Linked DNA regions of Homo sapiens: region 2 is reported to be linked to region 1. Evidence: microRNA targets listed by miRTarBase, many of them from high-throughput screens and not tested one by one. Region 1 holds a microRNA gene; the other region holds the end of a gene's coding sequence.

Region 1 (5,176 bases):
ACTATAGAGCAGAAACCCTGACCCAATGGCTACCTTTGGGTAAGTGCTGGGGTCCTGTAACATCACCATCAGCAAATCATTTAGCCCTTCAGGAATGCAGTGTTGTCACCTACAAATGGAAATATTTCTAGCCACATCTTCTCCTTCACAGGGTTGTTGTGAATATTGGGTAAAATCATACTGTGCAAAGTGATAATATTTCAAAAGTCTCCTGCTAAGCTGCAATACCTCAACTGAGAAGGGCTTATTATCACCCATAATCACATTCATGGATGACTAATTCTCATCAGCTTTCTCTCGGAGATGGAACATAAGCTCAAGTGATCTCAGGAAATGTCCATAGCAGGAAACACAAAGCTGGACATCAGAAGGACGCTGAGAAGACAGATGACAACAAAGGACAGGGGGTGTTGAAGAGGAAACTTGTCCAGGACCAGAATTACTGGGAACATGAATTTACAGCATTCCAAAGTCCTTACAGTTTAATGAAAGGAGAGGCAGTCCTTTGAACTCAAGTTTTAAAGATGTTACATTTAAAAGGCACATGCAACAGAATAGGCCCTTTCCAAGAAACAATAGCGTTTAAGTGCTGGCACAATTACCAGCAGGTTTTCTATGTTAAATATATATTCTGAAAATAGAAAGGACATTTCATACAACTTTTTCTTTAACCAAACAATCAAGAAGCAAGTGGTACAGCTCTCAGACCTTCAGATGACAATTACTGAACTCAGGGAAGAGAAATGTTTCTTCCCCTGGGACCTCTAAAATTACTGGTAACATGACTATGGAAAATGTGTCAAATAAACCAAAGCACCAACTTCAGAGACGGAAAGTCATTGGCTTTCCTGTGAAAATATCAAATATTTCACAGTTACTTGGCCAAATGTATGCTCACATTAGGTCAACAGAACATATTGTAATATTTTTCATTTATCCTGCTCTGCATGTATTATTAACATATTACAAATAAAATGAAAGTGATAGGTAGGAGAGAGTGCAGACTAGATGTCTTTATGGTCTAATTCGTTTTGATGAAGGCAGTTGCTATAAGGCACTTTCCCATTCAGGGGTTTAAGTCTTCCAGCCTTGGGCATAAGGAGCAGAAGAAATCCTTGGTGTAGAAATAAATGAAATAAAGAAAACAGGACTAAGGAGATGCTCTACCAAGTGGGGGATTCTAAGAGCCAAATTTTCTTCAATTTGTTTACTCATTCGTAAAAGGAATTCACACATCAATTATTGATTGAAACCCTTTAATGTGCCAGACACATGGAGGGGGACATGTTGCAGGGAGAGCAGGAGGGAAGTGGATGAGGCCTTTGCTCTTAGGAAGCTTCCAATCTAGGAGAGAAGACTTCTATTAAACAATAATTAAACAAAGCGCCACATCACTATTTGGATAGAGAATGGGTATTGAAGGGAGATGAACAGAAACTCAACTGGGGCTATAGATATCTACGTTAATGTCTTCAACCTCTTCCTTTCCTCAGATTGCTATATGCCTCCATGCTTTTGATTCTCTCTCTTCCTTTCCCTCTCTTCCAGTGTTCCACTGATTTTAGCAACAATTAAAAAAAAATCAAAAAAAAAAAAACAAGGAGTGGGGCAAGCCTTGGGTTGTGTGCCAGAAGCTGAAGAAACTCCTTAGCTCAGCATAGAATCAAATGCTAGCTTCTGTGGCAGCCAAAGTGAATCTATCAGACTAATGACATTCACAGTCTACATTGTGCTTCATCGTAATTAACCTTAAGTGGTTCGGGTAAATCACTTTAATTTGTTATGTGTTGGCAGAATCAAACTACTTTTTTTGCTTCTTCTTTGCCTTTTAGTTTAATCTTGTTTATCATCAACATCATAGCTTATGCTAGGAAATTATCAGTGGAAGCCCCTGTTTTCTACTATCTGAAATTCCTTCCACAATGGAAAGAAAGGGGAGTGGTGTCTTGCATCTCAACATGATAGCTGGCATGAATGAGAGTGAAGAGCCTCTTTCCAAGCAGTTTTTGTGTTTTTAATTTCACATTCTTTTACTTGAAGAGGGCCCCCAAATCTTGGATCCACCCTTAAATGATATTAAGACTAAAAAAGTATATAACCCATAAGAATAAAAAATGTTGACTAAAATAGATTGATATCATATCAGTGGGACATCAGAATAAAAGACATATTTGTGTGTGAGACAGAATAATAAAGGGAAGAAAAGGGCATAGAAATAAACATAGCTGGGCTGAGCGCAGTGGCTCATGTCTATAATCTCAACCATTTGGAGGGCTGAGAGAGGAGGATCCCTTGAGCTCAGAAGTTTGAGACTAGCCTGGGCAACATGTTGAGACCCCATAGCTACAAAATTTTTTTTAAAAAATTAGCCTGTAGTGCCAGCTACTCAAGAGGCTGAGGAAAGAGGATCACTTGAGCCAGGAGGTTGAGGCTGCAGCGAGCTGTGATCACACCACTGCACTCCACCCTGTATACAGAGCAAGACTCTGTCTCAAAATAAATAAGTAACTGGTTTATTCTACCTTTGGTTGGGATGGAGCATTCTTCAAACATTCAATGAATATTTACTGTGCACTCCTATGTGCCAGGCACAGTTCCAGAAAAATGAGATACATCAGGAAACAAAACAATCAATAATGCCTACCTTGTGGAGCTTACATTCTAACAAGGGAAGATAGACAATAAACACTAAGCATATTAAGTAAGCATATATTGCATTAGAAGGTGATAAGCATAATGGGAGGATTGGGAGTTTGGGGTAAGGACATAGAAGATTTGAAAAACACAATCAACCAACAAGATAGATGCCATACTCTGTATATGAATACTCCACGCAATAATAGCAGCAGTCACATTTTTTTCTTGCACCCATAGAATTTCAAGATAAACAATATCCTGGAAAATAAAATGAACTTAGATAATTAAAAAGAGAAGGAAGACATTTGGCTTTTACTGAGAATGAACTGAGGCTCATTGTAGGGTGTTGAACAAAAGGGACCTTGTAAGGCTGTTCTGGCTATTGCATTTCCTCTTGTTGGGGAAGAGAGGCACAAAGCTAGAGGCTAAGAGAACAGTTAGGAGGCTGTTGCCACCACCTGAGTGAGAGATGGTGGTGGTTTGGGGTCAAGGTCTTAGCTTTGAAGGCAAAAAAGAGTAGCCTGATTGTGCTAACTTCAGGGAAGTATAATACAAAATTGTTTTAATATTGCTATCATTTGAAATAATAGGGGGAATAGTAACACACCGCATCTCAGAATAGAAGCACTATTATGTCTTTTTAAAAATTTTTTAATTTAATTTTATTTATTTATTTTTTATTGTACTTTAAGTTCTAGGGTACATATGCACAATGTGCAGGTTTGATACATAGGTATACGTGTGCCATGTTGGTTTGCTGCACCCATTAACTCATCATTTACATTAGGTATTTCTCCTAATACTATCCCTCCCCCAGCCCCCCACCTTATTACAGGCCCCAGTGTGTGATGCTCCCCACACTTGTCCAAGTGTTCTCATTGTTCAATTCCCACCTATAAGTAAGAACATGCAGTGTTTGGTTTTCTGTCCTTGTGACAGTTTGCTCAGAATGATGGTTTCCAGCTGCATCCATGACCTGCAAAGGACATTAACTCATCCTTTTTTATGGCTGCATAGTATTCCATGGTGTATATGTGCCACATTTTCTTAATCTAGTCTATCATTGATGGACATTTGGGTTGGTTCCAAGTGTTTGCTATTGTGAATAGTGCCACAATAAACATACCTGTGCATGTGTCTTTATAGTAGCATGATTTAGAATCCTTTGGGTATATACCCAGTAGTAATGGGATTGCTTGGTCAAATGGTATTTCTCATTCTAGATCCTTGAGGAATCACCACACTGTCTTCCACAATGGTTGAACTAATTTACACTCCCACCAGCAGTGTAAAAGCGTTCCTTTTTCTCCACATCCTCTCCAGCATCTGTTGTTTCCTGACTTTTTACTTACCGCCATTCTAACTGCTGTGAAATGGTATCTCATTGTGGTTTTAATATGCATTTCTCTGATGACCAGTGATGATGAGGACTTTTTCTTGTGTCTATTGGCTGCATACATGTCTTCTTTTGAGAAGTGACTGTTCATATCCTTTGCCCACTTTTTGATGGGGTTGTTTGATGTTTTTCTTATGAATTTGTTTGAGTTATTTGTAGATTCTGGATATTAGCACTTTGTCAGATGGGTAGATTGCAAAAATTTTCTCCCATTCTGTAGGTTGCCTGTTCACTCTGATGGTAGTTTCTTCTGCTGTGCAGAAGCTCCTTAGTTCAATTAGATCCCATTTGTCTATTTTGACTTTTGTTGCCATTGCTTTTTGTGTTTTAGTCATGAAGTCCTTGCCCATTCCTATGTCCTGAATGGTATTGCCTGGGTTTTCTTCTAGGGTTTTTATGGTTTTAGGTCTAACATTTAAGTCTTTAATCCATCTTAAATTAATTTTTTTATAAGGTGTAAGGAAGGGATCCAGTTTCAGCTTTCTACATATGGCTAGCCAGTTTTCCCAGCGCCATTTATTAAATAGGGAATCGTTTCCCCATTGCTCATTTTTGTCAGGTTTTTCAAAGATCAGATGGTTGTAGATGTGTGGTGTTATTTCTGAGGCCTCTGTTCTATTCCAATGGTCTATACCTCTGTTTTGGTACCAGTACCATGCTGTCTTGGTTACTGTAGCCTTGTAGTATAGTTTGAAGTCAGGTAGCATGATGCCTCCAGCCTCTTGGCAATGCGGGCTCTTTTTTGGTTCCATATGAACTTTAAAGTAGTTTTTTCCAATTCTGTAAAGAAAGTCATTGGTAGTTTGATGGGGATGGCATCGAATCTATAAATTACCTTGGGCAGTATGGCCATTTTCATGATATTGATTCTTCCTATCCATAAGCGTGGAATGTTCTTCCATGTCTTTGTGTCCTCCTTTATTTTGTAGAGCAGTAGTTTGTAGTTCTCCTTGAAGAGGTCCTTCACATCCCTTGTAAGTTGGATTCCTAGGTATTGTATTCTCTTTGTAGCAATTGTGAATGTGAGTTCACTCATGATTTGGCTCTCTGTTTGTCTGTTATTGGTGTATAGGAATGTTTGTGATTTTTGCACATTGATTTTGTATCCTGAGACTTTGCTTAAGTTGCTTATCAGCTTTAGGA
Region 2 (5,000 bases), not on the chromosome of region 1:
CCTTCAATTGGAGCTCCCATCTTCAAATTCATATGAGAGTTCATACAGGTGAGAAACCGTATGTCTGTAGTGAGTGTGGAAGGGGCTTTAGTAATAGTTCAAACCTTTGCATGCATCAGAGAGTCCACACCGGAGAGAAGCCCTTTAAATGTGAAGAGTGTGGGAAGGCCTTCAGGCACACCTCCAGCCTCTGCATGCATCAAAGAGTCCACACAGGAGAGAAACCCTATAAATGTTATGAGTGTGGGAAGGCGTTCAGTCAGAGTTCGAGCCTCTGCATCCACCAGAGAGTCCACACTGGAGAGAAACCCTATAGATGTTGTGGATGTGGGAAGGCCTTCAGTCAGAGTTCGAGCCTGTGCATCCACCAGAGAGTCCACACAGGAGAGAAACCTTTCAAATGTGATGAGTGCGGAAAGGCCTTCAGTCAGAGTACGAGCCTCTGCATCCACCAGAGAGTCCACACAAAGGAGAGAAACCATCTCAAAATATCAGTTATATAAAACGTTTTGCTAAGAGTTTAAAATCTTAAAACCCATAAGTGCCACTAGGAAGGAAACCCTGTATATACCTACATTGACCCAAGAAATATTTACGCAATCCCTAGCAGAACATTGTTTCTGAGGAGGCATATGTGAGATTGATTTGTTGGTTCATGCCAAGTGTGTTCCACAGGTTGACTTTGAATGTGGACCTCTGAGCATCCACGCAGGATGGCTCTCAGGTCCCAGTCACAGACGTCGCTTCCTGGGATTCCAGCACGATGCCTCCATAGTTGAAAGACTACACAAAAAGCCACAATCATTGCCCGGCCTCCTGAGTCACCTTCTATCTATACTTTGCTTAAAAGCTATCCCAGATACTCCCCCTTGAGGAGCTCATGCCCTTCCTTCCTCTTTATTCGAGCATACTGGCAATGCATTGGAAAACAGACAGCTCCCACTAAGATCACGTTCTGGTATTTCTGAGGTTAACACTTGATTTAGCCCCTACATATCTTTCCATATATCCTATTATTTCTGAATATATGTCCTCAAAATCCCCATAAATATCCATCCCTTCCTAGATGGCATTAACTTTCATTTTAGATTTTAGGTGACTCATAATTCCCATTCACTTAGCCTATCAGAAAAGTCATTGGCAGACATATATGTCCTTGAACCTTTTTTATTTGTGTGGATTCTGCTCATCACTGTCTCTGTTAGACTTATTTTGTAGTGGCTGCATCACATATTTTTCACTTGAATTTTTTTGGAAATAGCTGAATGTAAATAGCAGGGAGGAAGAAGCAAGCAAAGTGAGAGCTTTTCTTCATCCAGAATTGCCCTCTGGGCTCCTTTGGTAACAGATGGAGCTCCTTCCTAGCTAGGGAGACCTTATGAGAAGTGGATGGTAGGAGGAGTCACTAATGTTTCAATCTCTATTTCTGTAATCTTGGGCAATAATGCATAGGAGTTCTTGATACCCCTTCATTGATTACTGTGTATCAGTTCTTTGTTAGGCATGAACGTCTTTATTAATCCATCATTCTTTTCTTCATTCAACAAATATGTATTGAACACCTCCTATATGCCAGGCACTGTGCTAGGTGCTGGGAATACCACTGATGAGACAGACAAGGTCCCTACTCTTGTGGAGTTTACTTCTGGTGGAGGAGACAGATGATAAGTAAACAAATAAATAATGTAGTTTGAGATAGTGATTAAGTGCTATGAAGAAAATAAACTAGGGTGATGATTTTAGTGGTGGGGTGGGGTGGGGGTGGGGTGACATTAGCTAGTGGTCAGGGAGGCCTTTCCGCGGTGGGATGTTGAGCTGAGGCCGGAGGAGAAGTAGCAGTCGCTGGCAGAGCACACAGGCTGCTCTGGGGGATGAGCTGGTGCGTTTAAGGAACAGGCCAGCACTGGCATTCGCAAGCAGTGGGGAAGGGGAGAGATGCCGAGGTGGTCAGTATCCTGACTTTCAGAGGCCTTTTTTTGTTTGTTTTAATTTTTGCTAGATTGATATTAAAAACTCATGTGGAGGAACTCAAGGAATGTTTAGAAGACCAAAAGTCCCCAATGACAGGAACAAAAGCAACCAATTTTTAACTTTCTCTTCTCATTCCTGTTTTCATTGATTTCCCACATGTAGTCCTTTTGCTCAGGAAGTCTTTGGGGAAATTAAGGATCTTTGAAGCTCTGAAATAGGTGATCAGGTTAGTGGTGTCTGTCAGCTGTCTAAGAGGTTGGAAAATGAACTACTCAAGATAGTCACGAAAATACTGAAAGTTTGATTTTTCTTTCCATATTTGAATTAATTTTTTCTGTTTGACTGGAAGGGGTTTTTGTATAACTAAAACCTCAGCGCATAAAGGAGATTTAAAAGGAGCACATGATTTAGTGGGTGGGCCATGAAACTAGAGATGGGATTTGGGGGTGAATTTGTCAATATCTGGATTTTAATCCAGACATCTCTGCTAACAAGCCTTTGGTAAGTCACTTCAGATACTTTTCCTCCTTTTTACAAAGAGAGGGCTGGCTTAGTTATTTGCCAAAGCCCCTTCCAGGCCTGAATTCCACAAGTACGATTTACTGTAGTGTCTTATCACTCTTTCATGTCACAATAGCGTGGAGCATTAGAGAAAAGCCTAGACTTTTAGTTGATAGCCAGTTGAAATATCATTGATAGAATTTTAGTTTTAGGAAAAATTGGTTTGATTTCTAGCTTTATTACTATTAGGTATGTGAGCTTGGGCAAATCGCTTAATCTTTGAGTCTAGTTTTCTCTCAAAATGAGAACATTAGGCTAAATGATTTCCGAGTTTCCAGCTAGTCCTAGAGTTCTATATTTCTACATAGTTGAATTATTTTATCATGCTGTTGCTGGGGAATATGACTAACCCTTTTGAAGCTACTAATTTTATGTCGAGCTTTAAAGTCCATAATTGTTATCTTCAGAAAATATTATTTGACCTACAGTATGTCCAAATCAATTTAATAAAATCGCTTTATAACAGGGTTCTGTGCTTGACATGTAGTTGTGTGAATTCAGTGGTCGTGTGTGGGAGTATGGGTATGGGTGTGTGGTGGAGAATTGGCTTGCACATTAAGCCCAGGGTGACCATGTAATTTATTGTCCAAACTGAGCACTTGAGAGTGAAGGGAGGGGGTGCTGTTGATACTCACATCTGGACAACAAGCCTCGAATGGGCCTTTCTCGGGCACACTAAGGTGTGAGGACACCTTGGTCTGAGGTCACAGCCACACAGGTAATAAATGACTCAAGTCAGGAATAATCCATCTGGAGAGAGCACAGTCCACTGAGAGGACTGCCTCAGCTCGGCTGTGGCTCTGTGTTCACGGCGAATACAGGCCCACAGCTCTTCTAAGAAAACACCAACCTCGATTTTCACACACAGTTTAATCTTAAAATGTTGGCAGCTAATTCCTTTTCCTTGGGTGATCCATTTTGGTGCTTTCTGTGATCTTCCTGGTGCCCCTTGGCAGTTCCTCCAAGCCCTGCCCTGGCCCCTGCTGACTGCAGCCCATGCCTGGGAAGGCGTGAAGTGCTGTCAGCTGAAGCAGAGGGGGCCCACGTTCTGTGCCGCAGTCAACAGTCTGACTGGCTGTGGCGTCTACCAGCTTTGAGAGACAAGTCTGCATTGCAATTCCACCATTGGGATGGGAGCAACCCAAACTAGCCCTTCTGATGGGGGTGGGGGGTGGGGGCAAGGGTAGGTCATCTGTGATGGGATTCACTCTTGGTGAATCTGCTAGGATTTAGAGTGTGAGCCAAGATAAGTCCAGAATGACTGCATGGTTTCTAACTTGGAAGCATGAATAAACGGCAGATTGCCTCTTGCAGATAGGAAGAACTCTTTGCATCAGAGTCCAACATTGAGATAGTCTACTGCGTGAGAATGTGGGCACAGCTCGTCAGGCCATCTCAGAAATTGAAGAGGGATTACTTTGTGTTGTGTGAGCATGGACATGATTCCTTCCAAGGGACCTTCTAGCTCTTGGCTCTGTTCTTAAAATTTTTGAATTATTTCTCAGTCTTTGTAATGTACTGATATTCTCAGAAATTTGAAAAACTAGGTGAATGGAAAGCAAATATCAGAAGCAGATGGAAAATATACTCAGTGGTAAAATCTAGGAAAAGATGAGAAAGGTTGATACTACTACAGGGCAAGAGCCATATATAAATAGCAAAGCTGAGTTAAGATCTATGGATTAGAGAGGAAGAGAGGAAAAATGAAGATGATAGAGCACTTCCTCTAACCATATTCATTTTCTTAATTTTTCTAAACCTCAAGTTTCTCATCTTTAAAATGGTTTTGAAAATATCTAATTCATGGAAATGTTGGGAGAAGTAAATAAACGTAAAGTGCCTAGCATTTAGTGCTATAACGAATTCCTATTCCCAGTTGCCTATTAAGGAAGAAAGGTCATGTTATTTGGATTCCTTTTTGTTTTGCTGAGCTCTGTGGTGGGTTTGGACATCTAAAATTGGGGTAGGACCTGGAGAGGGCTGAATTGCTCCACATGGTAAGAGAGAGAACTTGAATCTCCTGGGGTAGTTGGAGGTAAGAAAACAAAGGGTAGACTTGGAGTGGGAGAGAGGACCAGGGAACCAGTGGAGTAGGATGGTCTGAAGTTCTGAGCTCTTGTGTAGGAAAACTTCGTGACCACAAAGTCTTTCCCTAAAGTTAGGGGTGTTTGGCATGGTGGATTTCTTATGGAAACTGGTGGAAGGGCTGAGTGCTGTATCCAGGGTGAAATGGGGCAACACGTAAGTACCACACATAAATATAGGAGCCAGAAGAGGGTGCCCCTGAGAACAAGCTCCAAGGAATATGCAGAATATGCAGAAATCTTCAGGGTAGCTAAAAGCTGCTACAGGCCATGGAATTAATGGAGTTTTGAGTCAAGTTTACCCAAACCCCTAAGGGGCAGGGAGGCCTGGGATATCTTTATTTCCACTCTCAATGTACATGAAGTAGAATAACTTTATAATCA

What was found. The annotated mature microRNA hsa-miR-3977 reads GUGCUUCAUCGUAAUUAACCUUA and lies in region 1 at 1,730-1,752, shown strand. An mRNA with a match to its seed (bases 2 to 7 or 8) in the 3' UTR can be bound and repressed. Matches are read on the target gene's strand: a 7mer-m8 pairs with bases 2 to 8, a 7mer-A1 pairs with bases 2 to 7 and ends in A, and an 8mer does both.
Region 2: the mRNA of ZNF664 is a reported target of hsa-miR-3977. Seed matches in the 3' UTR shown: 7mer-A1 at 1,286-1,292.

What each region holds. Positions count from the first base shown.
Region 1 is chr5:82,838,428-82,843,603 of GRCh38, forward strand. MIR3977 (microRNA 3977) reads left to right here and starts at 1,728; the gene lies at 1,728-1,797.
Region 2 is chr12:124,012,428-124,017,427 of GRCh38, forward strand. ZNF664 (zinc finger protein 664) reads left to right here. Exons shown (of 5, transcript NM_152437.3): 5 at 1-3,000. The coding sequence ends at 503. The region is part of intron 2 of ZNF664-RFLNA (ZNF664-RFLNA readthrough); the gene reads left to right. Among named protein-coding and RNA genes, the nearest start is that of ZNF664-RFLNA, 42 kb to the left of the region's middle.